Homo sapiens: one gene and its partners. The protein of the gene in region 3 purifies or fractionates together with the protein of the main gene of each other region. This does not show direct contact. Each region holds a gene or a part of one and is shown on either strand. Other genes may lie near its edges. The genes, in order: CA10, EEF2KMT, PARL and ENAH.

Region 1 (7,024 bases), on a different chromosome or scaffold from region 3:
AGGTCAGGTGTTCCTCTCCATGGTTGGTTCATTTGGTCTCCAGGTTCTGGTCCTCACTCCCTCTCCTCACCCCTTCCAGACCTGGGGTGGTTATAAACGGTCCCTCTATGAGGGATCCTCATGACTCAACATGTTCCATGTCTCTTGCTGAGACTCTCCCTGATATAATCCCCAGGTATCCAGAAATCAAAAGGAAATTGGCGACAACAGTAGTTTTAGCCTTTGCTGGGCAAAATTTCAAACAAAAAACCTGAAGATATGGGGAAAAATCAGCTTCTTTGAGATAACCAATGTAGGTCTTCAGTCTGCTGATGGCCAGCTTCTTCTCTTTTTTGCTTCTCTCTCTTTCTCTGTCTCTCTTTTTAAAGATGGGGTCTTATTATGTTGCTCAGGCTGGTCTTGAACTCCTGGCTTCAAGTGATCCTCTTGCTTTAAGCCTTCTGGGGAGCTGGGATTGCAGGTGCAAGCCACTGCACCCTGCTTCTTTTTACTTCTTATATTCCTGACTGTGCCATTAGGCTAAGGTCAATTATTTCTACAACCTATCTCCTTCTCAGAGGTTTCAAGATCTTCTACCCTCTGTATCAGGAACAGGTTGTATTCCAAAAACTTGTACTGGATGTCTGTGAAAGTCTGCCAATTCATTAGGGAAATGTAAATCAAAATCACAGTGAGAGATCACTTCACAACCATTAGGATGGCTATTTCAAAATAAATAACAAAAAAAAAAAAACAACAAGTTTCTGTGAGGATATGGAAAGATTGGAATCCTTGTGTGTTGCTGATGAGAATGTAAAATAGTATAGCCACTGTGTAAAAAAGTGTGACAAACCTCAAAAAGTTAAACATAGATATGCCCCAGTAATTCCACTCCTTGCCATACACCCAGAAAAACTGGAAGCAGGGACTCAAACAGTTCATTGTATACCAATTTTCATTGCAGCCTTATTCACAATAATCAAAAGCTGGATGCAACCCAAATGTCTATCGACAGAAGAACAGACAAACAAAATGTGGTATATACATACAATGGAGTATTATTCAGCCTTAAAAATGAATTAAATTTTGATACATGCTCCAACATGGATGGACCTTGAAAACATTATGCTCAGTGAAATAAGCCAGACATAAAAAAGATAAATATTATGTAATTCTACTTATATGAGGTACCTAGAGCAGGCAAATTCATAGAAACAGAACGTAGGACAGAGGTTACCAGGGGCTGAGGGGGATGGAAAATGGGGAGTTCTTGTTTACTGGGTACAGAGTTTCAAGTTGGGATGATAAAAAAGTTACAAAAATGCATAGTTGTGATGACTGCACAATAGCCTGAATGTACTCAATGTCACTGAACCATCCACTTTAAAATGGTTAAAGAAAAAATGGCTGTCAAATATTCTGCAGCAGAGACCAAACACAGGACCCATATGAAGAACTATCGGTAGTTAAGAACTCCTAGAAATGACAAGATGATACTGAGAGTGGAGAGGAACTTAGACCCCACAGCATTGGACTGGAAGTGTCAGGAGCTGGCTTCCAAAGGTGCTCTCACAAATCTAAGCTGCTATGAATCTGTGATTAGATTCATTTTTATTGTTTCCCTGTTGTACAGGAAAAAGGCTGTTTCTGACTATAATTTTACAAAAATGCCAAAAAGTTTTAAAAATAATTTGTTGATTTGTGGTTAGTAAACCAGTATAATCTTTATGTTCACATCTATTATTTTAGATTCCTTTTGGCACTGCAACAAATTACCCCATAATTAGTGGCTCAAGTGAACTCAAATTTATTATCTTATATTTGGGGAGTTAGAAATCTGAAATCAGTTTTGCTGGGCTAAAATTAAAGTGTCAGTAGGGCTGTATTCCTTCTGGAAGCTCCAAGGAAGAATCTGTTTCTTTGCGCTTTGCAGCTTCCAGAGGCCTCCTTGGCTCATGGCCCTGTGTCACTCCGACCTCTGCTTCCATCCTCACGTCTCTGTTCTGATTCGGACTCTCCTGCTTCTGTCTTTTCCTTTTAAGGACTCTATGGTTACAAGGGGTTTGCCTGGATAGTCCAGGGTAACCTTCCAGTTTTAAAATCCTATATTTAATCATATCTTCAAGATACCTTCTGCTATGTAAAGTGACACATTTAGAAGTCCTGTGGATTAAGATGTGGACATTTTTGGAAGGGGACATTATTCTGTCTACCACATTTATCAACTCCAAATATATTTTCAAATGAAATGGAAAGAGAGGTTAGAACATACGTATTTTTCAGATTACCAAATTAATGCAAGTCTGTTTTAGCAAATCTAGAAACTTTAGAAAAGAAAAAATAAAACAGTATTATCCTTCATCCCAGTCTCTTTTTTAGATCCTACCTTCTATACTTAACATATGATAAGGATTTGTCGTGTCATCAACTACCTTTTATACTTAGATCCTACTTCTTATACTTAACATATGATCCTACCTTTTATACTTAATATATGATAATTATGTTTAGATCCTACCTTTTATACCTAACATATGACAGATCCTACTTTTTATACTTAACATATGATAAGCAATTGTCATGTCCTTAACTACTGAGGTGTCTATTTTATTAAATGAGTTAAAAGATGAGAAAAGATGACGGAACTGAGTTTTGGTTAAAATGATAGAATCGGCAAGTGGGTTTTAGTCTCAGTTTTAATATGTTTTTTCTCCTTTTAGATATTTTAGATCAGCAGATAGGTTTCTATGTGCCATATTTCCTTCCTGAAAGCTAAACTCACGACCTTTCAATACCCACCTATATCAAATCCTCAAAGCAAATATCTATATTCCAAAATAATTGATTGAAGTTATCCATATTTTACTCTGCGGTAACCTTCTCATCCTGTATTTCATTTTCAAATTACCAAGAATCTCACTTATGTGACTATACACTAAAATTAAAACACAAACACACTGCGTACACTCACTTTGGTCTGAGCAAAAAGACATGAAAGGTGAACATTTTTGTGAAATTTTACAAGTTCAATGGCTAACAAGGGTCTCAATCTTTAAAACAGTCAGTGAGGCTTAACTCAGTGTAAAACATCATTTATATCATAATCAAACTTCTTCATATATGGAAACTTTAAGCAACCTGAAACCACAAAGAATTATCTCCCCAACCTCCTCTTTTTGATTAAGTTAATTTAGTAGCTTTAACTAGAATGGATTAATTAGCTCCAAACAATGTAGCAATTGGATGTTAAATTTAACAGGGTCAAAGGGTGGAGATTGGTTCCAAGGTAGGAGTCTTATATCTACATACAACCCAGCCTTAAGGGCGTGCCATTTGTAAAAATACAATTACAGATTTAATATTCATTATGCAAAATGTTTGGGATCATAAGTGCTTCAAATTTTACTAATTTTGGATACTTGCATATATCTAATGAGATTTATTGGGGATGGGATCCAAGTCGAAACAAAAAATTCATGTATGTTTCATATACATTATGTCTTATGTAGATAGCCTGAAGGTAATTATATACAATATTTTAAATAACTTTTTGCATGAAACACAGTTTGAACTGCATTTTGACTGCAACCTGTCACATGAGGCTAAAAGGTGAAATAAATCTCATTTTTAAATAAAAATGAATATTTTCTATTACACTCAAGGCACAGTGCATAGGATGAGAAGGAATAACTATTATTCCTTGCTATTCTTGTACTGAGGTTGAATTTTAGCCTTAAACTATGGTAAGGAAAGCCCTTGTTCCTTCATTTGAGCCCAATGTCAGGTCAAATATGTTAAAATAAACATAGTAACGCAAGTCAGGGGCTTCCAGAGAGCTGCATCACAGTTTTGTGCATAAGATACACTTGAACACCAGAAAGAATAATGCTTGTGGATAAAAATGCGACACAAAACATGTAGTTACTAGGCTGCATTTCACGTACTGACACCCAGCTTGGCTCAGACTTCAAAATGTGACATCTTGCCCAAATTCAACAAAACTTCCCAGTCTTACAGGGTGATTTTCAAATCGATTAAGTTGGGTATTTCTTTAAGGGAAAACAAAAATCAGAGCAGTGATTTGAATTCTCACTTTCAAAACAAGTTTCCAACTCATTAAACATCACCTTCAAAATGTGATACAAACATGATTTACCTATTGCCTAGCAAATTAAGGCATTTCATTACCAATTAGTTTATCACGACCAACTATATTTTATTTTCTACCTTTCACAAATGCAAAAGGAACCATCAGACAGTTCTCAGCTCTTCAAACCACTGACAACAAAAATTGTGCCAGATATAAATATTTACATCATGAAAAGTAAATGTTGCCAAGATTCCAAACTCCAATGCATTTGAAAATTGGTTTGGATCAGGTATACTTTCCTGAATTGGAAAGATACAAAATCATCTGTTCAAAAAATATCTCTAAAACAAAAAAAAACCCAAGTCATAACATGTGAGTGATTTTTAACACTAGACTATCTCCCAATCTCTTCTTTCCCAATAAATTTTAGGGAGAAGCTGTGTTGACATTTTTTTCTTTCACATCAACATTTTTCCTTTAAGACATTCTGATGGAAAGTAAAAATTATATATCCATTGTTTGTGTTAGTTTGACACATTTTCCATCTCAATCCCAATCTGTACTTTATCTAAAACCCCTTCAAATGCTTGCCATAACTCGTAGGCGAAGGATTCAGCTCCCGAACACTGCCTCAGGACCTGCCCTCTGCTGTCCTCTCTAGCCTACCATCTTGCAAGCCTCTCTTCGCTCCCTGTGTTCAGCCTTGCTGGCTACCTTTCAGCTGCATTCTGGAACTCAGGCACCAAACCCCATTCTGTATCTTGGGCTTTTCCACCCCCTGCTTTTCCTTTTGCCTAGAATGCAATTATCCCCTACATCACCCTCTCCAAGAAAGAAAGAATGACTGAATATTTAATCATAACTACAACTTTTCCTTCTTAAATACTGACCAGCGAACTCACACGTGTTCACGACTTTAAATAAATAATTCACCTTTTTAAAGAGAAATGTACTTAGAAGCCATGACAAGCTCCTTGCAGAATTTATAAAAATAAAACTATAAATGGAACAATAATTAGGATAGCATCGTTTTATATGGAATCAGAGCAATAAACTAAATGACCTATATATGACCTTTCCACAAAAATGCTTCTCAAGTCATATTTAAAACAGTACACAAATACTGCATAACTAAATGGTGTCGACCACATGCAATGTCTTTTAAAACCTGCTTTGTGACCTGAGTCAAAGTCACTTACAGCTTTTTGATGAGTCATTAGGGGTGTGTGTATCTGTGACAGTTACATGGTACAAGAAAATATATTTCAATACATCAGAAGGGGAAAAAGTTAACTTACAAACTTCATGGTATTTATGGTGAACAGACTGCACAAAGGAAGAGAGAACAGAGCCCAATGACCCAAACCCTGAAGAATCAGCCGCTGGTATTATCAAAAGTTGTCAATAATTTTAACCTCAATTTTTTGCACACAAATTATTTTCCATTTCTCTTAACAATAGCTAAATTACCTTTGAACACAATTTTCTGCATGTGCATTTTTTTTTTACCTTTAACAACCTACTCAACAGTAAAAGATAGCCAAGTAGACATGAACCAGCAAGAGAAGTGCTAAGATTCCAGTGATGAGAAGACCCAATGGGCACTTGTGCCCTTCCACAAATTAAAGAGGAGCTCGTTATGGGGGGAGGAGAGTGAAGGAGGGATTTAGGTGTGAGAATCACAAAGCCCAGCTCAGCATTTCTGTGCAGGAGCTAGGATTCTTAGCAAGCAAGATGCCCCTAGGAAGATTAATTATTGATTTTCTTATAAATCATCTAAGGTGATTTTTGTCTGTTTTTTTCCTCCCAAGATGATGAACGTCTGATTTTATTTTTGTTAATTGGTTTTCTCACTTCACTGAGGTTAAAAGAAGGCCTAGTAAAGCAGTTTCTTAGAGGAAAGATTTTCCCAGCATGATAGGCAGGGGTGGCCACTATGCTTTCTGTCCTTTATGGGGGTACCAAGGTTGTCTGATAAGACTTCAGGCAACCTCCAGGAGGTACAGAGTAATCAGAAGCACAAAAGTTTGACTAGTTAGGGAGAAAAAGCACAATTTAGACATATTTCTATCTAATGGCGGCAGGTCTGAAGTCTGTGGTATTCCTAGGTGGGAGGACAAACTCATCACAGAGACTGAAGCCTTGAGGATTAGCTTTCAGAATCAAGATGGCCCCATCTTCAACTTTACCATGGAAGCAATATGGTGGCTTACCTTCCTGCCCCCCGTGTTGATGCGAAGAGGTGTCAGAAAGGGGTCGAAGATCATGTGACTGGTCTCTATGTTGACTGGCGACTGCCGTTTCCCCACAGAGCAAAGATTCCAAGCTGAGTTCACCAATCCCCAGAAAGAAGGAACTAGAAACAAAAAGAAATTATAGAATTAGGCTGAGTAGCAGGTTGGGGAAACAACATAAATAAACAGAGCTATGTACAAACGTGGTAAAATGGAAGAGAACCACCAAATGTTCCCACCCATGGAGATCCTTGGGGGTTGCTATGGTATTTTCCTGGTCTGAATCTTGGTCCACTTCTCTAAGTCTTACCTGCATGGTCTCTTGTCATCAGATTTTCTTGTTTGAGGCCCACTCATCCTGCAGTTTCTTTGTTGACTGCAGTCATCATTAACACTTTAATGCTAACATCATTGTTCAGGTCTCATCATCTTTGCAATATGCCTGGGGTAGCACAAATATTTAGCAATTCCCTGGAGTTGATGCTGTGCTTTTCCTATCTGGCAAGAACGATGTGAAAATCAACCTTATCCTATTTGGAAGTTTTTCAAGGAAAGTGTCATTCAGTGTACACAAAGTTTTTCTTTGGGTTGTCAAGACTAAACTGAGGGAGTGACTTATTTTATGAGCCCCCTAATCAATGCCAGACAAGAGCTTAGCAACTTGACTTCATCTTTGTTTAGTTCAACACTGTGTCATTAACCTAATGTACTTGTAGATAAA
Region 2 (7,024 bases), on a different chromosome or scaffold from region 3:
CAGATATCCTCCACCCCCACCCACCCAGCCCATCCTAGGAGCCCCGGTGAAGAATTCCTGTGCTAGAGGTGAACCAAGATTATCCATGTGGAAAAGATACAGCCACAGCAGGGAAAACTTTCGGGGCAATACCAGGGCTTCGAGCATGGAGATACCTGAAGTTATCTCGCACCCTGCTCTGAGTTTCACCCTGAGCCTCACTCTCGTAGGTGGTGAAGCATGAAATGTAGGGAGAGCTGCTTTAAAACCCAGCACAAGGCTGGGTGCACTGGCTCACACCTGTAATCCCAGGACTTTGGGAGGCTGAGGTGGACAGATCACCTAAGGTCAGGAGTTCCAGACCAGCCTAGCCAACATGGCAAAAACCCATCTCTACTAAAAATACAAAAATTAGCTGGGCGTGGTGGTACATGCCTATAGTCCCAGCTACTCAGGAGGCTGAGGCAGGAGAATCGCTTGAACCCAGGAGGCAGAGGCTGCAGTGAGCCAAGATCGGGCCACTGCACTCCAGCCTGGGCAACAGGGCGAGACTCTGTGTCAGAATAAATGAAAAACCAGCACCAGCCTGAAGAGCCTGTGTATTGCGTGGGGTACTTTGCTGCCCTTGGGCAGAATCTGCATCCCTCCCAGCCAGCAGGCACTGTGGACCGTCTCCTCCCTCTCCCTCCAGGCTCCTGTTTTCCCGCCGTCCCCACTCCTGCTGCACCAGTCCCTCTGCCCTCCTTTCCAAGTGCCAGGCTGTGGCCACCTCAGAGCTTGCACCAGCTGTTCCCACTGCCTAGAACTTGCTCATCCTGCATTTGGCTTCTCTGGGCTTTAGCTGGAGTGTCACCCGGAGCGTCCCGTCCCCTCCATCCTGTCCCCAGGGACACACACTCCAAGAGAGCAGTTGCCGAGTGGGCCTTCCCGCCTCTTCCATAGAGCCAGACCGTTGGCGACTGTCCTTACTGCAAACCCTGGTTCACACTGGCTCCCCTGGGAGGGAGGCGGTTTGGGCCCACATGCCCTGTGTTCCTGCTCAGAATGGGCGTTAGAAATGCTGCCATAGCCTGTGCCACTGCAGTGGAAGCATTTTTAGGAAACAGCTTATATCTTAAGACAAACTTCAGATGCATGGGGCCAAAACGCTGTGTCCATCTACATCTTTGCTGAGGGATCGGGTAGCCTGGAGTTTGCCCTCTGCTGTGTTGGCTTGAAGCTCATAGGAGACTTAAGACGGGCTCTCGAGCAACCAACGTTCTGTCCTTTGCCGTAGACTGTGAAGCATCCTGTGTGTGTGAAGCACCCGCCGTCCGTCAAATATGCCCGGTGCTTTCTCTCAGAACTCATCAAAAAGGTCAGTTATGGGCAGTGTCCGCCCAGTAGCCGGACAGCATAGCCACCTGCGTGCTGGAGCCCCCGTCCTTCCCAGGCCCTGGGCCTGCTTTGCAAACCCCAGCATGGCAGGGGCCTCCCCAGGCAACTGGCTGCAGCCACATGTGACCCATGGGAGACAGTGCAGGGCGGGAAGAAGGGGAGGCCAGCATCTCTCCCTCACTCTGCCTCCTGGGGTTTCCACGGCAGCTGCTCCTCTGGGGCCCCAGCTCCTAGCATATGGATTCTCATTCCTACCAGGCTGGCCCAGCCCACAGCACTGGAACCCTCACCCGCACCCTCTGTCCTGCCCGCTGAAGGGTTTGGAGTTTCCTGCTCTTGTCCGTCTCTGGGTTGCCCCACAGGCCCCTGTTGGAAGATTTAGCTCTTGCCATACCTTCGGAACTAGTTCCTCTGGTGAATTCTCTGCATTAATCCTGCTGGAATGAGCTCTTTCCTGACTGATAAAGGATGAATTTTATTTTTTACTTATTTATTTATTTTTTTGAGACAGAGTCTCACTGTGTTGCCCAGGCTGGATTACCGTGACACAATCTCGGCTCCCTGAAACCTCTGCCTCCTGGGTTCAAGCAACTGTCATGCCAGCCTCCTAAGAAGCTGGGACTACAGGCACACGCCACCATGCCTGGCTAATTTTTTATTTTTAATAGAGACAGAGTTTCACCATGTTGGCCAGGCTGGTCTCGAACTCCTGACCTCAGGTGATCCGCCTGCCTCGGCCTCCCAAAGTGCTGGGATTACAGGCATGAGCCACCGCACCTGGCCTAGGATGGATTTTAAAGATGCGCCCGAACATGCAGGGTTTGACATGAGGATGTCGAGAGGCCTCCTCAGTAGGCAGTAGCAGACCTGCTGAGTGAAAGAGCCACACTTTTAGCAAATAAACAATCCCCTGCTTCTCCAATACCTGCTTTCTCCCTAGTCCTCCCCAGAAGCATGCATCTGTGGTCACCAGCAGGTCTGCCCTGTGCCACCAGGAGAGGGCAGCAGTCACCCAGTGTACTCTGCTGCTGCCCTGTGAATCATAGGACGGGGCCAGCTGTGGAGAAGCGGCCTGCTGACAGCCACAGCCTGCAGCATGGGCCGCCCTCACACTTCTGCCTGGGCTCACTTAAAAGCACCTTTTGTTTTCCTCCTCTCTGTGTTTGATCCAAACACGGCTCTCTATCATGGTCACCTGGCAACTCTCACGGAATCCTTGTCTCCTGCCCTAGACTACACCTAACCCTACCCTCCCAACACCTCTGGTTCAAGGCCCTCCCATCCAGGTTTCCCTACCAAGTGAATTTTTTTTTTTAGAGACAAGGTCTCTGTTGCCCAGGCTGTCCTCGAACTCCTGGGCTCAAGCAGTCCTCCCATGTCAGCCTCTAGAGTAGCTGGGACTATTCGGCACACACCACCAAGCCCAACGAAGTGAATATTTTATATGGCAGCTGGCCGGTATTATACCATTCCATCGCAAATCTCCCCTCCAAACTTGGTGAAAATCATCTGGCCATTTTTACAGATTAGAACGAAAGCAAACAAGCTCTCACTCTGTCTGCCCCCAGCACGAGGCTGTCCACACAGAGCCTTTGGACGAGCTGTATGAAGCGCTGGCGGAGACCCTGATGGCCAAGGAGTCCACCCAGGGCCACCGGAGCTATTTGCTGGTATGAGAAGGGCACCCTCCTCCCCCTCACAGCCCAGATACCCTTCCTGCACAGACAAAGTGAAAACGTGGGTGTGGGTTCAAATCCTGACTCACCCATTCTACAGTCTTAGACATGAGGTCCGTCAACCTTCTTTAGCCTCAGTTTCCCTGTCTGTAAATCAGGCACTTCAACAACAACAGCATGTCTCGTGGAGTTGTTGGGCACTTATCCAATAGGTGACACACACTACCTGCTTCACAAGGACCTGGTGCCCAGTCCTCAAAGAATACTTGACAGGGCTGGGCGTGGTGGCTCACGCCTGTAATCCCAGCGCTTTGGGAGGCCGAAGTGGTTGCATCTGAGGTCAGGAGTTCGAGACCAACCTGGCCAATATGGTGAAACCCTGTCTCTACTAAAAATACAAAAATCAGGCCGGGCGTGGTGGCTCATGCCTGTAATCCCAGCATTTTGGGAGGCTGAGGCGGGGGGATCACCTGAGGTCAGGAGTTTGAGACCAGCCTGGCCAACATGGTGAAACTCCATCTTTACTAAAAATACAAAAATTAGCGGGGTGTGGTAGTGGGCACCTGTAATCCCAGCTACTAGGGAGGCTGAGGCAGGAGAATCTCTTCAACCCAGGAGGTGGAGGTTGTAGTGAGCCAAGATCATGCTATTGCACTCCAGCCTGGGCAACGAGAGCAAATCTCTGTCTCAAAAAAAAGTACAAAAAGTAGCCGGACATGGTGGCACACGCCTGTATTCGCAGCTACCTGGGCGGCTGAGGCAGGAGAATTGCTTGAACCCAGGAGGCAGAGGTTGCAGTGAGCCAAGATCGTGCCACTGACTCCAGCCTGGGTGACAGAGCTCAAAAAAAAATAAGATAAAACATAGATACAGAAAACCACAAAGGAAAAACAGCATATTGAATCATCACAAGGCAGCCACCCCTTCATAGCCACACCTGTCCCCTGGCCACCACTGACATGTGTTCCATCGCCAGAATTCCGTTGTCTCAGGAAGGTTCGATGAATGGAATCCTGTGTGGCCTGAGATGAGTGTCTTTCACACCGCGTGACACCCTTGAGGCCCGTGAAAGCTGTTGGCATGCCAACAGTTAGCTGCTTCTCATTGCTGAGTGGCGATTGGTCCTGTCATGGTTTATTCAGCCATGTGGTGGGGCTACTTGTCTTCTAAGCCACTTGCCTTCTGATCGCTGGACTGACTCTCTCGCCTTCTCTTGGTGCAGCCCTCGGGAGGCTCGGTCACACTCTCCGAGAGCACGGCCATCATCTCCTACGGTACCACAGGCCTGGTCACATGGGACGCCGCCCTCTACCTTGCAGAATGGGCCATCGAGAACCCGGCAGTCTTCACTAACAGGTGACCTCGGGGCGCAGGGCAGGGCACCGAGGCAGGCTTACCCTGGTGCAGTCGCAGACACGGTCCCCTTTCCTCCCGCCAGGACTGTCCTAGAGCTTGGCAGTGGTGCTGGCCTCACAGGCCTGGCCATCTGCAAGATGTGCCGCCCCCGGGCATACATCTTCAGCGACTGTCACAGCCGGGTCCTTGAGCAGCTCCGAGGGAATGTCCTTCTCAATGGCCTCTCATTAGAGGCAGACATCACTGCCAAGTTAGACAGCCCCAGGGTGACAGTGGCCCAGCTGGACTGGGACGTCGCGACGGTCCATCAGCTCTCTGCCTTCCAGCCAGATGTTGTCATTGCAGCAGGTAATGCCCAGCCCCGGGCACCCTGTGCAGGTGGTGTCCTTGCAGCTCTACCCAGCTCTTGGCTCTGGGAAAAGGGAACAATGGACGCTGTCGGGCATGGACATGATGGGGCTTCCAGAAGAGTTACTCTGGGCCTCCAGGGTGACATCACAGGACAGGGGTGCCTCTTAAGGTGACCTTCAACCCACAGCCCTCTTTTTGGAGACAGGCATACTCCCGTTCCAGTCGTTACCACATGGCTCTGTCCCAGAGCCATGCCCTGTGTCCTTCAGAGACCACAGGAGGAAAACAACCACTTCTGGGACGAAGACAGGGCCCTTGAGAGAAGGTGGTGTTTGGCTGGGCCACCGAAAACCCCTCACCCCTGCCAGCACACTCAGTCCCCTCTCTGGTGGAACAGAGCTCTGCCTGTGGTCCTAGGTCCCAGCCCTGAAACCCACAGGTCCAGCGGTGGCCAGGGACACAAGCCCACCCCTGCAAGCCAGCAGACAAATCAGCAGATGCCTGAAACATGAAGTTCATGGCAGGGTCAGGCTTTGTGTCATTCAAAGCCCTCTAGATAGGCCAAGAACCAGAGCTGGTTTTTTAAGGAACACCAGTGAGTCTGGAGATTTTTTTCTTTTGCTTCGGTCTTTTGCAGCTTTCTCTACTAAGGGTTCTCCTTTTTCACCCAAGTAATTGCCTTTCCATCTAATGGCCCAAATGGTCAAATGGCATCTACTAGTCTCATATGACCGCTGCCTCTCTGGCCTCGCCCTGCTGCTGACGTCAGCATGACCTGGACCTGTCCACTGGTCCCTTTCAGTAACCTGAAGCTTTCACCATAGATGTGCTGTATTGCCCAGAAGCCATCATGTCGCTGGTCGGGGTCCTGCGGAGGCTGGCTGCCTGCCGGGAGCACCAGCGGGCTCCTGAGGTCTACGTGGCCTTTACCGTCCGCAACCCAGAGACGTGCCAGCTGTTCACCACCGAGCTAGGTGAGCCTCCACGCCCACCCGGGCCTGCATGGTCCCTGAGCTGTCCCTGCAGGACGCCAGTGGAAGTGAAAGAACTGGGTGCCGGGGAAAAGCTAGGTTGCCCCACACTCCCACACCATGGGGGGAACTCAGGCAGAGGCCAGTGAGCAGGGTGGGCTTGGGGCGTGGGGGGCTTGCGGCAGGAGGAGGGCAGCTCAGCACAGGGAGGGAGGGTCTGAGCCCAGCAGCCCTACTGTGTGCTTCAGAGCAGGGTTCCCTAAGCCCTTGGGCCTCGGTTTCCTCATCTATAAAATGGAGGTGGCGGGAGGGGCAGTCGGGGTCAGGGCTGGACACAGCTGTGGCCTGCAGGACGCTGGAGCACAGGATGTACAGGCGGATCCACCACGCCACTGTCCTGAGCACCCAGTCGGTGGAAGACGAGCAGGGTGACTGTAGAGAAGGGGAACTGGCCCCATAGTGGGCCAGCAACTGTCCTCAGACCTGACATTTGTCAGCCCCCAGCAACTGTGAGGGTGTGCTGTCACTGTCCCATCTCACCAACAAAGACACTAGGACACACGGAGGCCAAGAGACCCCCGAGCTCCCGCAGACTGCACCCCAGCCACCTGGCTCTCACGCCTCCACACTACACCCAAGCCCCCCAGTGCCACCAGCCTTTGCCCCAGCTCCCCCTGAGCACAGCCCCTCCTGGCAGCCATGTGCACAGATGCACATGCAGCAGCCTCTGCCTGCACACAGAGACACAGACAACCCAGTGCCTGTCCACGTGGGGCAGCCCGTTAACTACAGAGCCAACAAACAAGCCAGCACACGAAGACGTACTGGGTTCCACGACAGAGTCCCCCCACAACCTCGCACAGGAGGCTGGCCGGGCGCAGGGCTCAGGCCTGTCATCCCAGCACTTTAGGAGGCTAAGGCAAGAGGACTACTTGACCCCAGGTGTTCAAGACCAACCTGGGCCACATAGTGGGACCCCATCTTCACAAAACATACAGAAGCTAGCCAGATGTGGTTGCACACGCCTGTAGTCCCAGCTACTCAGGAGGCTGAGGTGGGAGGATGGCTTGAGCCCAGGAGATGGAGGCTGCAGTGAGCCCTGATCTCACCACTGCACTCCAGCCTGGGCAACAGAGCAAGACCCTGTCTCAAAAAAGCAAAGAAATAAAAAATAAAAAAAAAAAAAGGAAGTCTTTCTTCAGATACTTACGTGAAAAAAAACCTGCAATATATTTTAAGTGAAAAAAACAGTGCCAAGCAGCACACATAGTATAAGCCCCCACCCACCTTTTTTTTTTTTTTTTTTTTTGAGAC
Region 3 (7,882 bases):
ATATAATATATACGATTGACTAATATGTCAAGTATCTTACTTAAAGATATTTTGAGGCTAGGCATGGTGACTCAAGCCTGTAATCCCAACACTGGGAGGCAGAGGCAGGCAGATCACTTGAGACCAGGAGTTCGAGACCAGCCTGGCCAACACAGCAAAACCCCGTCTCTACAAAAAACACAAAACTTAGCTAGGCATCATGGTGGTGCATGCCTGTAATCCCAGCTACTCGGGAGGCTGAGGCAGGAGAATCGCTTGAACCCGGGAGGCGGAAGTTGCAGTGAGCTGAGATCGTGCCACTGCACTCCAGCCTGGGAAACAGAGCAAGACAATGTCTCTAAAAAAAAAAAAAAAAAAATATATATATATATATATATATTTATATATATATATATATATATATTTATATATATATATACACACACACATATATATACACACACATATATACACACATATATACACATATATACACACACATATATACATATATGCACATATATACACACACATATATACATATATATGCACATATACACACACATATATATAGAGAGAGAGAGAGAGAGAAAGAGAGAGACTATCATCTCAATATAAACTTTCCATACAAACGGCAAGTTTTTTAAAAATATAAAATGTTAAGTGTTACAATTCAACTATTTTCTTCCCTTGGATAGTTTCATATAACTGGCAAATTAAACAGGTTTCCACTTTCAAGCCTCAAACCTTGGTAACAGTAAAGTTTACAAGGAGCCCAAATAAGATTTTTTTCCCCTTTTGTGTAAAAGGCCAGATAGAAGATATTTCGGTCTTTGTGGACTACTGAAATCTGTCACATATTACTATTTTTGTTTTACAATCCTTTAAAAATGTAAACCATTCTTGGCTGGTGGGCCGCCTTGGGCCTGCAGTAGTTTTCAGACCCTAGTATCACCACCTAGAGTGCTTGTAAAATGCAAATTCCTGGTCCCACTTCAGGCCTATTATTAATACATCAAATGACACGGATTGGGTCATTCTTCTGCACGCTAATTTCAAAGCCATAAGAAGTCAACATATAGCTAATAAAGGTTATATATAAGGTAAACTGATACTATTAACTTTAAGAACTTATTACCAGAGGCAAATGCTCTATTTCAGGCCTACATTCTCATGTATATTTTTTATGCAACCACGAAAATGTCATTTTCAAACTTTCTATACAAATGGCAAGCTTTTCAGACATTAAATACTAATCTTCAACATTTCATGTGTTTCTGGTTCACTGTTTCAAATGGTCTTTATACTCAATTTTTACTAGAGGCTCATTAGTTTTCTTTTGCTTCCCCTTCCTAAAACCAATACGGTGATGTGTACATAAATCTTAAATGTTTAACACACTTCCTGTTGCTTCCTAATACACGTACAGTATTTATTTATTTTACATGGAGTCTCACTCTGTTGCTCAAGATGAAGTGCAATGGCACGATCTCGGCTCACTGCAACCTCCGCCTCCCAGGTTCAAGCCATTCTCCTGCCTCAGGCTCCCGAGTAGCTGGGATTACAGGCGCCCGCCACCATGCCCCGCTAATTTCTTGTATTTTTAGTAGAGACGGGGTTTTGCAATGTTGGCCAGGCTGGTCTTGAACTCCTAACTTCAGGTGATCCACCTGCCTCAGCCTCCCAAAGTGCTAGGATTACAGGCGTGTGAGCCACCACGCCCGGCCAGTATTAATCTTTTCTTTCCCCCTTAAACCATGCAATCTCAAATGGGATTACCACCTCCATCTGTCCTCATTTTCCACCTCCCCAGGAGTTTAAGATTAGTGCCTGACAGATCTATGTTAGTGTATGAAGATACAATGTATGTAAAGTTTTCACAAGTCCCTGATAAAATTCACCTGGAATGCTTGTCGGACATATAGGTTCTTCCACTCCACCCACCCCTCTCCTGATTGTGATTTGGGAGGACTGGGGTGAGGCCTGGGACATAAAATCCATACAAACTCTTCAGGTGATCCTTGAGATTAGGCAATGGCTCCGCCACATTAGAGCCTCGATTATTTACCACTGACTATCCCACGTGTTGATAAACAATGTTTCTTATCAGCAATCAGGTGGATTCGAGGCACCCATCTAACCAAGTCAGAAATTGGAAGGAATGAAGTTTTGAACAAAAGAGGAGGAAAATTTTCAAAGCCAAATGCACATCAGATTCTTAAACAGGTGAGGAATTTCTCTCTTCTCTCTCAAATTAGAAATGAATTACTGTGATGCAAAAATCAGCAATACTGATCAACCATACGCTTCACACTTCTACTCGGAAGGTTCGGCAGTTTTCTTTCCAAATCAACCGGAAACGAAATCTTCCACTGTCTCAATTCAACAATAAAGCCTCTCCTACGACTTTGCCAGACACAAAGTGATACCTTCCATCAGACTTCGTCCTCCCTTAGATCACAAGCTAAAGAAGGCGACTGGTTGTAATGGAACACAACCTTTATAATTAGATGGAAAAAGAATAAAAACCGCCATTCTGCCAGCTGTACTAACTTCTTCACTTCAGAAACTGGCTCAACAGTTTCCACTCGCGATTATGAAGTGTGGCACGCAATGAACCCTCAGCTTAGTTCCCCTTCCAGTCACGTCCTTCCCAATGGGAAAGGAGAAAGCGCAGGCTCGCGGGGGGCTGGGCTGGGCAAGGGGAGCGAGAAGCGAGGACTGGACGGAGGCGAGAGAGGAGAGAGAAGGGGCAGGTAAGGTGAAGGGGGTGAGCTGGGGCCAGCACAAGAGGCCCAGACGGCCTCCGCCCCCGAGGATACACGGCCAGAGCTCAGGGACCAAGAGGCGAGAAGACCAGAGCGCGGCGGCTATTACCTGCGTCCGAGGAGCTGCGGCGGGGTTAGGACCGCAGTGAGCTCCTCGCAGCTGCGGCCGCCCACCGACGCACCCCACGCCTGGCCGCAGCCCCAGCCTCTCTGCGCCCAGCCTCGCCACGCCATCTTCCCAACCTCTGCCCCACCATGGCCCGACCTTACCAACCCCAGCTGCGCAACTACTTCCGGGGCGAAGGCAACACCATAGAGCACGAGGAGCAGTCTAGAGCGCCCCCGCGCGGCTGAGCGGCAGCCGAACCAGCCACGGTGCCCGGACGACTGGCTGGCGCCCTTCTGTCCCACCGCTTCCCCTCCCACTGCTCAGCTGGCTCCGGGAGCGACCTGCGAGAGTGGCCCGGCCTCCCGGCATTTGCAGATGAGGAGGATGGGGCCAGAGCGAAGAGGGACAACTGTCATTTTTTCGAGTAACGGCACATACCAGGCGCTTTGCCTAAGATCGCATTTAATCGTCACAGCACTGCTAGAGGTAGATGTCATCACTGTTTCACTTTGCCTCTGGTCAGAGGGGATAGGACTTGCCCGGAGTTGCAGGGCTGGTCCCTAGAGGAACCAACGTGGCAAGCCAAGTTTTCTTAAATTACTACTTTTTTCTGCATCTCACCACTTCGTGTTATTCTGTATGCCTTTAACAAAGTCCAAGCCTATCGGGCGGGGTGGCTCACCCCTTTAATCCCAGCACTTTGGGAGGCCGAGGCCGGCGGATCACCTGAGGTCAGGAGTTCGATACCAGCCCGGCCAACATGGTGAAACCCCGTCTCTACTAAAAATACAAAAATTAGCCGGGCATGGTGGCAGGGGCCTGTAATCCCAGCTACTCAGTTGGCTGAGGCAGGAGTATTGCTTGAACCTGGGAGGCGGAGGTTGCAGTGAGCCGAGATTGGACCACTGCACTCCAGCCTAGGTGACAGAGCGAGATCCGTCTCAAAAAAATTACAAATACAAATACAAAAATTAGCTGGGCGTGGTGGCGCAAACCTGTAATCCCAGCTACTCGAGAGGCTGAGGTGGGAGAATCACTTGAACTCGGGAGGTTGCAGTGAGCCGATATCGTGCCAGCCTGGGCAACAGAGTGAGACCCTTTCTCATAAATAAATAAGTAAATAAACACAAAATCCAAGCCTGAAATGAAAAGCGGGCTTTCACTTTTTCATAATCCATCCCTCAACTACCTGTCAGTTAGCTTGATTCCCTGCCATTCCATTCCCCCCGACCCTAGCTGCAGCCATACAGTCATTGGCCATTACTCAAAGGCACCATCCGCGTTCCCACTGCTGAGCATTCATGCTACCGTTCTCACCACTTGAAACATCTAACCGACTTGTCCTTCAGGTCAGCCTCAAGTGTCACCTCTTCCAGGAGGCCTTTCCCAGACCTCCACTCCAATTTAGATTCCCTTCCTTTGTACTCACATACCGCTTTATGCTTATCTCTGCAATAGCACTTCATTCATTCCATAAGCTCTTATTAAGCACCTACAGTGTGTCAGGTGATATGTTAAACCTGGGGATACAATTGAGAAGACACTATATCTGACCTCACAAAGATTCTATTGTATTGGGGGAGAAGGCTCTGTAGGAGTCTAGAGAGGGGGGATATAGCCCAATTGAAGGAAGGGGCATGGGAGGCTCAGGGAGAAGGCTTCCCAGAGAAACTGATAGAGGTCACCAAGAGAAGAGGATTGAAGTGTTCCTCAGAAAGAATAGCATTTGTGATGTCTCCCAGCGCACGACTTGTTTGAAAAACTAAAATAAATTCACGCCTTTTCCACACAACCCAGAGAGGGGCCCATACGGCATTGTTCTAGATTCTCTGTGGGCGGCAAGCCATCCAGGTGCCGAGGCAAGAGACCAAGGGCACGAGCTGTTCCAGTATAATAAAATATATAAAACAACAAGAGTTATACTAGATCTAGATCATAGACGTGATTATATATGAATATCATTAATCATCAGTTTGTAGCAATTATTCTTTATTCCAATATTATAATAATCCTCGCTCTATAATCATAACCTAGGAAAAACCGGGCCATACAGAGGCAGGAGCTGAGGGGACATAGTGAGGAGTGACCAAAAGACAAGAGTGCGAGCCTTCTATTATGCCCAGACAGGGCCACCAGAGGGCTCCTTGGTCTAGGGGTAATGCCAGCGTCTGGGAAGATGCCCGTTGCCAAGCAGACTGTGGTCTAGCGGTAGCATGTCAAGGAAAAACACCTGCTACTTAGTAGTCCCTGGGGGAGTTTAGAGAAGACTCTACTCCTCCACCTCTTGTGGAGGGCCTGACATTAGTCAGGCTTTCCCGCAGTTATCCGGAGGCCTAACCGTCTCCCTGTGATGCTGTGCTTCAGTGGTCACGCTCCTAGTCTGCCTTCGTGTTCCATCCTGTACACCTGGCTCTGCCTTCTAGATAGCAGTAGCAAATTAGTGAAAGTACTAAAAGTCTCTCATAATGGTGTAAGTTGTTTCTCTCTTTGTCTCCTCTCTCTCTCTGCCTCGGCTGCCAGGCAGGGAAGGGCCCCCGTCCAGTGGACACGTGACCCACGTGGCCTTACCTATCATTGGAGATGGCTCACTCTCCTTATCCTGCCCCTTTGTCTTGTATCCAATAAATATCAGTGCAGCCTGGCATTTGGGGCCACTACCGGTCTCCGTGTCTTGGTGGTAGTGGTCCCCCGGGCACAGCTGTCTTTTCTTTTATCTCTTTGTCTTGTGTCTTTATTTCTACGCTCTCTCGTCTCTGCATGTGGGGAGAGACCCACCGACCCTGTGGGGCTGGTCCCTACAATTCTCATTGTAACTTAAAGGGAAACTTTCACAATGTCTAGAGCCCTTGATGTCCTGCAAATGAAGGAGGAGGATGTCCTTAAGTTCCTTGCAGCAGGAACCCACTTAGGTGGTACCAACCTTGACTTCCAAATGGAGTAGCACATCTGTAAGAAGAAAAGTGATGGCGTCTACATCCTACATCTGAAGAGGACCTGGGAGAAGCAAGAAGTTTCTGCTGGCAGCTCGTGCCATCGCTGCCTTTAAAAACCCTGTTGATGTCAGTGTCATGTCCTCTAGCAATACTGGCCAGAGGGCTGTGCTGAAGTTTGCTGCTGCCACTGGAGCCACTCAAATTGTTGGCCGCTTCACTCCTGGAACCTTCACTAGCCAGACCCAGGCAGCCTTCAGGGAGCCACGGCTTCTAGTGGTTACTGATCCCAGGGCTGACCACCAGCCTCTCACAGAGACATCTTATGTTAACCTACCTACCATTGCTCTATGTCACACAGATTTTCCTCTGCGCTATGTGGACATTGCCATCACATGCAACAACAAGGGAGCTCCCTCAGTGGGTCCGAGCTGGTGGATGCTGGCCCTGGAAGTTCTGCGCGTGTGTGGCACCATTTCCCTCGAACACCCATGGGAGGTCATGCCTGATCTCTACTTCTACAGAGATCCTGAAGAGATTGGAAAAGAGGAGCAGGTTGCTGCTGAAAAGACTGTGACCAAGGAGGAATTTCAGGGCAAATGGACTGCTCCAGCTCCTGAGTTCACCGCTATTCAGCCTGAGGTTGGAGACTGGTCTGATGGTGTACAGGTGCCCTCTGTGCCTATTCATCAGGTCCCTACTGAAGACTGGAGTGCTCAGCCTGCCACAGAAGACTGGTCTGCAGCTCCCACTGCTCAGGCCACTGAATGGGTAGAAACAACCACTGAATGGTCTTAAGCTGTTCTTGCACAGGCTCTTAAGCAACATGGAAATAACGTTGATGGAAAATACACATCAGTTTCTAAAAAATAAATTCACTTTGGTTATATCAGAGGTGTCAAGTCTGGGATTTGATTTTACCCTATTTGCAAGCTAAAAGATTGGATGTTGGCAAAAGACAGGAGACTCCTGGGTCAGAGACAAAACACTTTATATTACCACGGCATGTTCTCCAAGTCCCATGGTGGCAATGCCATGAGCCAAATGGATGAAGAACATGCAGTGGATTTGCATCTCAACCAAAGAATACTGAGCCTGGGGAATCTACTGTTTAATAGTGAGTTTTTATAGTAAACAAGCGAACAATCTTGAAAGGTAGAGATGTTTTCCTCAAGAGCAAAGGGCAGTTGGCTTATAACCTTGGAAGAAAGATAATATCACCCTAGAGAGCACAGGCTTGTGTGCTGCCTATCATAAAAGATTCTAATGCCATGACGGGGCATAGGGGCTCATGCCTGTAATCCCAGTATTTTGGGAGGCCGAGGTGGGTGGATCACTTGAGGCAAGGAGTTCAACGCCAGCCTGGCCAACATGGTAAAACCCCATCTCTACTAAAATTAGAAAAATTAGCCAGGCTTGGTGGCACACGTCTGTAGTTCCAGCTACTCAGGAGGCTGAGGCAAGAGAATCAGGTGAACCCAGGAGGCAGAAGTTGCAGTGAGCCAAGACTGTGCCACTGCACTCCAGCCTGGGGGACAAAGCGAGACTTTGTCTCAAAAAAAATAATAATCATTAAATAAATAAAAGATTCTGATTCAGCCAGGCACGGTGGCTCTAGCACTTTGGGAGTCCTAGGTGGGTGGATCACCTGAGGTCAGGAGTTCGAGACCAGCCTGGCCAACATGGTGAAACCCCGTCTCTACTAAAAATACAAAAATTAGCCAGGTGTGATGGTACACGCCTGTAATCCCAGCTACCCAGGAGGTTGAGGCAGGAGAATCACTGGAACCATGGAGGCAGAGGCTGCAGTGAGCTGAGATCATGCCGTTGCACTCCAGCCTGGGCAACAAAGCAAGACTCTGTCTCAAAATAAATAAATAAAAGATTCTACTTCCTCAGTTCAGAATTCCTCTCCTTAATGCAACCCACTGAGTCTGCAGGTACAGTCCAGCCCTCTTCACATTGCTCCATGAGAATTGGGACTCAAGGAACCAGCACAAAAATTCTAATAGTCTGGCTAATGCTATTGCTGTGGGTAATAAATTGTCCTTCATTTCTGACCCAGGAGTCTTGTATTTTCTGCCAGCACCCATAAA
Region 4 (7,024 bases), on a different chromosome or scaffold from region 3:
CATCCTACCCATCCATTCAGGCAATTAAAGTCACTGCTATATAACATTTTCAAGTGATTAGCTGTTAGTAGCAATAATGAAAGCCTTACCCTGTTGGGATGGAGTCTCGGCCGGCTGAGAGGCTGCCTGCAAGCCTGGCTCAGAAGCAGAAGAGTCTCCCAGCACAGAGTTTAGAGGAGTCTCAACAGAGGCAGGGGCAGCTGCAGAGGGAGAAGGGAGAACACTAGGCTTGGATGAGGGAGTTGAGGCAATAGGGGTGCTTGGAGGAGGAGAAGCTTGAGATCCACAGTGTGAGAGTGATGCGAGGGAAGGCAGTGGAGGCGGCGGCGGAGGAGCTGCTGGCCCTGAGGTAGGCGGTGGAGACACTGGATATGTTACAGAGTCAACCAGCCCATTGGGTGCTGTCGGTGATGGAGGCATTTGGGGCACAGGAGAAGAAACACAAACAGGGAGGACAGGCCTTGGACCAGTAGCTTTGCCTGGGGGGCTGCTAATCATTATTGGAGGAGATGGAGGGAGGGGCGAAAAATTGGAAGTAGACCAGGCACAGGGCTTCGTAGCTGGAGGCTGAGAAGAGGGTGTGTTCACAGGAGAAGAAGGTCGAGAGTTTTTGTTCAGAGGACGAGGAACTGTAGCGTAATGGGGAAGAACAGGGTGGAAGGCTGAACCTAAAGATGTTGCAAAACGTGTCGCTGAGTGTCGCAGTGGTGGTGTAGGGGGTGTGGAAGTAGGTGGCAAAGCAGTCACTACAGCATAATCAGGAGTGGCATCTGACACTGGAGCTGAGATGACTTTAGCGTATGATGGAGGAGGTGCTGAAGGAGGCTGGCAACTGGAATACTCAGGAAGTGGAGCGTTATACAGGGAGCTGTCTGAAGATGGAGCTGGACAGAAGGTGGAAAGCAGCAGCAAAAGACAGGATAAAAAAGGAGAGAGAAAAAGGGAGCTAGTGAAGCCACAAAACCAGCATTCAGACACAATGTATAAATGTAGACTACAGTTAGTATCAGAGAATTAGGCACAAACGCAAATAACTATTTTCACCCAAGAATATTTTAACTTGTAAATACATTTTGAGATTCAGAAGGGGATGAAATAAGTTTCCTTTTATCTAATAAGTGGATTAATAAATTTAATTGACTAATTTCTTTTACAAGAAAAAGCTAGTATTAGTCTTAATTTTTATTTAGTCTACAAGAAAAAGGACATTAAAATCACATGAATAGGACCATAAACAGAAGAATAAATTTAGTTGTTTTTTTAAAAACAACAAATAGCAAAACTAGTAAAGCTGGCAAAACATTTAATATGAAGGGTTCAATGCTCCTATTCAATGCTAACTTGTGGAAAAGTTTTGTTTTGTTGGCCATAACTCCAGAAAATAATTAGGTAGCTAAAAATACATAAATTAACTTAATAAACCAACCAACCAACCACTGTTTAATCAAACCACATTAAGACTTTTTAATTAGGCCATAAGGAATATTCTTAAATCCTATAATGAATGTTAATTTTAATAAACGTTAAAATATCTCAAACTTTCAGCCATATATTAACCCTTATGTCTTTCAGTAAATTCCAGATTCCATAATTTTCACTAATTTTTCATAATACTAGAAAGCATATTTAAATAACTAGTCTTAGAGAATATTTCTCTAAAATAATTCTTCCTCCAAAATCTTTAGAATGCAATCAAGCAAATTTCTTGCTGAATGGTACTACAGTACTATAGTATTTGAGACAATTTAAGTGATCTCATGAGGGAAATATATTTGAAGTTCATCCAGTATAAAAAATTTCCCATAAAAACACACTTACACTTTATAGCCATTTTATAGGGTGTTAGAAGAATTAGAATGGCAGAATAAAAATTTCCAAGAGCTTTCTTTAAGTCTCCAAGCAATAAAAGCAATACAGAGAGAAATAAAAAGAAAATGTTAAAGTAGTAATTGCTGCATATTTATTCATAATTTCAAATTGTATGGCTTAATCCCAAACATCTCAAATGTGAAATATTTTAACACATGACTGCACAAGAGACATCATCCAAGCTCAGATACAAGAACACAGAAGAGTTTGTAAACTTCTTACCAGCACTTGATATTCTGCGCTCTCTCTCCCATTCCAGCTGTTCCCTTTCTAACTGCTCTTGTCGCTCCCTTTCTTGCCTCTCCCGTTCCAGTCTCTCCAGCCTCTCTCGTTCTTGTCTTTCTTGCCTCTCCCGATCCAGGCGTTCCTGCCGCTCCAGGCGTTCCTGCCGCTCCAGGCGTTCCTGCCGCTCCAGGCGTTCCTGCCGTTCCCGTTCTTGTCTCTCTCTCTCCAGCTGTTCTTGTTCCAGTCGCTCCCTCTCCAGCCTTTCCCTTTCTAACCTCTCTCTCTCCAACCTTTCTCTTTCCATTCTTTCTCGCTCCAGCCTTTCCCGCTCCAGCTCCTTTTGCCGTTGCTGTTCTTGTAGTTGTCTGGAAAAAAAAAAAAAAAAGTAAAAACATGCATCTATGGCTACTCATCATGAAAAAGCGATTCTTTTCACCTATGTAAACTATTTCTGAGTCAAATAAAAGCAATGTAGAGCATGCAAACATCTCTCCTCCCACATGAAGGCTACCTTGGATAGAGACTGTTTCATACAAATGAAAATCATTTCTCCTATTAGCATCATATTGGCTGAATGCTTCAGCACATTGCACTAACATTTCATTTTATTCTGTACTTTTCATGAGTAGTGTTGCAAGTAAATGAATTTTCCAAATAACATACCACTTTAATAACCAAGTCATTATTTTAATTATTTAGTGAAAACATTTGTAATTGTAATATCCTTAATATCAAATTTAATTGTACAAATAATATTTCAGAAAATACAATGACTGGCCACAGCAATAGCTCAATAAATATTTACTGAATGGGCCAGGTGTAGTGACTCACACCTGTAATCCCAGCACTTTGGGAGGCCGAGGCAGGTGCATCACTTGAGGTCAGGAGTTCGAGACTGGCCTGGCCAACATGGTGAAACCCCATCTCTACCAAAAATATAAAAAATTAGCCGGGCATGGTAGCGTGCGCCTATAATCCCAGCTACTTGGGAGGCTGAGGCAGGAGAATCGCTTGAACCTGGGAGGCAGAGGCTGCAGTGAGCCGAGATCGTGCCACTGCACTCCAGCCTGGGTGACAGAGCAAGACTCCACCTCAAAAAAAAAAAAAAAGTTTACTGAATGAAAAAGAGTCAAGAAAGAAGAAATAAACTTTAAATGATTGAAATCTCATATCCAGAGGCAACTATCATCAACATATGTATATAAAGACACACATCTATATATACACATACGCGCACACACGCACCCCTATATACCTCTAGACTTCCCCTTGTGTAAAAATACACATATAAACTTTAAAAACAAAATAAAATGTAACCATTTCCCGCTACTGTGAAATCTGCTTTCCTTTCTCTCACTTAATATATTGTGAAAGTTGGTCTGGGAGCAGTGGCTCAGCTGTAATCCTAGCACTTTGGGAGGCTGAGTGGGAGGATTGTCTGAACCCAAGAGTTCAAGATGGGCCTGCACAACAAAGCAAGACCCATCTCTACAAAAAATTTTAAAATCAGCCAGGCATGGTGCCATGCACCTGTATTCCCAGCTACTTGGGAGGCTGAGGGAGAAGGATTGCTTGGGCCTAGGAGTCTGAGGCTACAGTAAGATAAGATTGCATCATCACACATCAGCCCAGGCAACAGAATGACACCTTGTCTCCAAAAACAATGAAAGAAAAGAAAGGAGGAAGCGGGGAAGGAAGAAAAAGAAGGGAAGGAAGGGAGGAAGGGAGGGAGGGAGGGAGGGAGGGAGGGAGGGAGGGAGGGAGGGAGGGAGGGAGACATAAGTTAGTAAAACTGAGGATATCTGGGATGAGAACCTGCCTGTGTGTACAACTCTGGATGGACACACGCACGCGCGCGCACACACACACAGAGTTATCCTAAGGCACTTAGTTCAGCATCTTTATTTTCCATGAGTGCATAATAATATTCGATTATTTTGCTGTCCACAGTCTAAGCAGTCTCCTACAGTAGGATATTAAGTTATCCTAACACTATTGGCAATACTGCAATAACATTTGTCTTCATCTTTGAATCTTTTTCTGTTTCTATAGGATCAATAAGGACATAAATTTTGCTAGGTGAAAAGGTATGAATTTAAGATTTTTGATACATGGTTCCAAATTGTCTTTAGGAAAAGTTGTGTCAATTAACCTTCCCTAAAAAAAAAGTTATCTTTGCCAGGCACGGTGGCTCATGCCTGTAATCCCAGCACTTTGGGAGGCCGAGGTCAGGAGTTTGAGACTAGCTTGGCCAACATGGTGGAACCCTGTCTCTACTAAAATTACAAAAATTAGCTGGGCGTGGTGGTGTGCGCCTGTAATCCCAGCTACTTGGGAGGCTGAGGCAGGAGGATCACTTGAACCCGGGGAATGGAGGTGGCTGTGAGCTGAGACTATGCCCCTGTACCCCAGCCTGGGTGACAGAGTAAGACCCTGTCTCCAAAAAAAAAAAAAAAAAAGTATCTTTATCTTACACATACGTATTTCATAGCACTGTGGGGAAGATTAAATGAAGTAATACCTAAAAGCTCTTTAAGAAGTACTTGAAACATAAGAACGTTCAATGTGGGCTATAACGATAGTTTTTTTGTTTTGTTTTGTTTTTTCTTCCCCGAGACAGAGTCTTGCTCTGTCGCCCAGGCTGGAGTACAGCCATGCAATCTTGGCTCACTGCAAGCTCCACCTCCCAGGTTCACACCATTCTCTTGCCTCAGCCTCCCGAGTAGCTGGGACTACAGGTGCCCGCCACCATGCCCGGCTAATTTTTTGTATTTTTAGTAGAGACGGGGTTTCACAGTGTTAGCCAGGATGGTCTCGATCTCCTGACCTCATGATCCACCCGCCTTGGCCTCCCAAAGTGCTGGGATTACAGGTGTGAGCCACCGCGCCCGGCCCAACAATAGTTATTATTTGGAAATTTCAAATTGGGACTTTCTGGACTGGCTAATAAACTGGGTGGGTCTAGTTAGAGACAAAGCTAAATGACAGCACATGCATGCTATCCCTTTGTTCCTTCCAGCGGTACCAACACACCAGTAAGATCTTTCCAAAAATCTCTCTCCTTCATGTTTCCTAAGCTGGCTATACAACAAAAGAAAAGGCCCATTTGACAAATACATCAACCCCACTGCTCTCATAAAACACACACCCTCTCCTGGACATACCATCACACTTAACAATGACTGCAAGAGAAAAACACAAGAAACTGACTTTATTTATGAGTAGTTATTTATTTATGAGTAGTTGTTTGAGATACTGACTACTAATAAAATCAGATTTTCAGGATCTAGTACGGACTTCATTATGCTATTTGATAAATCACTAGCTGCCAAAGTTTTTGAGGGATAACAATAACTTTATCTGCAGGGATGAGGGGAAGAAATTAGATGTATTCAAAAGAATGTTTTTAATAATAAACAGAGGAAAGTCAGGGTTGGTTGTTGTTGTTTCTCCAGTAACCTGCAGTTAATAAACTCAGCTGGAGCCTGTATTAAATTTCAGATAATTCAACCTACATCAAAAAATATGGGCCATTTTACATATAATGCTCTAAGCAATCTGTTGGGCCCAAAGGGCAAAAGATACACCCATATTATTCTAATTAGAACAAATTTAAATACAGAAGCTAAAGAGAAACATTTAAGAGCACAGTAGCTGTCCCAAGAAATCTATGATGAAAAGATCTAAGTTTTTAGATCTTTGAGCATTTGTTACTTCTTCTATTTTACCAAAACAACATAAATATATAGTTTTTAAAGTTTATAACAAAAATCAGTAGTTCACTGCCTCAACCCTCCCACCCGTTTCCTACTCTTGCAGCTGTTTCTTACATTTTAGCTTTTGCTATCTACTTTCTAACAGGAAGATGCCTTCTACAACTCCCTCACTACACTCATGCTTCTCCCAATATGGAAAATCAATATTCACAGCTTACATTATTAACATGATAATGTAAATACTGCTCACAGCTGAACCAAATAGTATTCTATGACTACATTTCATTTCTCATTCAAGTTCTTAGTAGTTGGGTTTTTTTTTAACCACCAAGTTAATGGCTGTTTCTCTAAGCAATACAATGCTTTTAACACACAAAAAGTAAGCTTAAGTCACAAGCAGAAGGCCAGGCATGGGTGAGGTGAATCTGAAAGAATTATTGGTAACAGCATTTACAGCTAGGTTGTATTGACTTAAGAAGTTTGTTCCACATGTCATCATATTCCAGGGTTTTCAGGCTATAAAAGATAAGGAGTGTCTACTGATATAGGAAAAGGACACAATGCTGGAGAATATTTCTAAGTTCACAGACAGATGATTCAAGCAGGCAATTCATATAGCTGCAGGAGATTCTTACTATTTTCTTGTTCTGAAGGTAAGAAAAGAAAGTGTTGAACACTTTAAGCTAATTTTTAGCTTGCTTGCTGAAAAGATGCCCATCTAAACGGATTTCCCAAAATAGTGATTCAAGCAGAAAATCTCTGGCTTCCGAATCTTGTGTGGCATGAATAATTCCCACCTAAATTGGATGGTTTATAAATTTGACTCTCATGTTTTGACCTCTAAAGCAAGACATTTGTGTAGCTTTCTAGGAGGAGTTTCCAAATTTATAAACTTTGCTTTTCCTCAGAATTATCGCTGCCAATTCACATACTGGAAATGCACATGGCTCCTCTTCCTAGAGTTCTCTCTCCAACTGTTTTCTTCAGTCATTAATAGAATCGTCTGAGGACTTTTTTCAAAGAAAGAGTGCCTTAATTCTGAACCATGAAAAATCCTGACGGACTACTTTAATTTTTCTTTTAAGCTAGGCATATATATTCTACAATAATTTGAAAGTTTCTGAGAATATAAATTTTTTTCAGAAACAATTATAGTGCAAATCACCAATATTATTTTTTAAGCATTTAAAAAATATCAGACACAGTTCCTCCAC

Evidence for each region.
Region 1: the proteins of PARL (region 3) and CA10 purify together in Homo sapiens (affinity purification with mass spectrometry; 2 studies listed by BioGRID and IntAct, with this or other methods). This does not show direct contact.
Region 2: the proteins of PARL (region 3) and EEF2KMT purify together in Homo sapiens (affinity purification with mass spectrometry; 3 studies listed by BioGRID and IntAct, with this or other methods). This does not show direct contact.
Region 4: the proteins of PARL (region 3) and ENAH purify together in Homo sapiens (affinity purification with mass spectrometry; 3 studies listed by BioGRID and IntAct, with this or other methods). This does not show direct contact.

Annotation. Positions count from the first base shown.
Region 1 is NC_000017.11:51,924,708-51,931,731, forward strand, and holds part of CA10 (carbonic anhydrase-related protein 10 precursor), read right to left. Parts: intron 6,426-7,024; coding exon 6,283-6,425; intron 1-6,282. UniProt on the Homo sapiens protein: Does not have a catalytic activity.
Region 2 is NC_000016.10:5,087,796-5,094,819, reverse strand, and holds part of EEF2KMT (protein-lysine N-methyltransferase EEF2KMT), read left to right. Parts: intron 1-1,255; coding exon 1,256-1,336; intron 1,337-2,924; coding exon 2,925-3,026; intron 3,027-4,254; coding exon 4,255-4,388; intron 4,389-4,470; coding exon 4,471-4,736; intron 4,737-5,563; coding exon 5,564-5,713; intron 5,714-7,024. UniProt on the Homo sapiens protein: Catalyzes the trimethylation of eukaryotic elongation factor 2 (EEF2) on 'Lys-525'.
Region 3 is NC_000003.12:183,881,866-183,889,747, forward strand, and holds the start of PARL (presenilin-associated rhomboid-like protein, mitochondrial isoform 1 precursor), read right to left. Parts: upstream 3,016-7,882; 5' UTR 2,982-3,015; coding exon 2,857-2,981; intron 1-2,856. UniProt on the Homo sapiens protein: Required for the control of apoptosis during postnatal growth. Essential for proteolytic processing of an antiapoptotic form of OPA1 which prevents the release of mitochondrial cytochrome c in response to intrinsic apoptotic signals.
Region 4 is NC_000001.11:225,517,107-225,524,130, forward strand, and holds part of ENAH (protein enabled homolog), read right to left. Parts: intron 2,460-7,024; coding exon 2,092-2,459; intron 885-2,091; coding exon of another isoform or gene 201-884; coding exon 90-200; intron 1-89. UniProt on the Homo sapiens protein: Ena/VASP proteins are actin-associated proteins involved in a range of processes dependent on cytoskeleton remodeling and cell polarity such as axon guidance and lamellipodial and filopodial dynamics in migrating cells.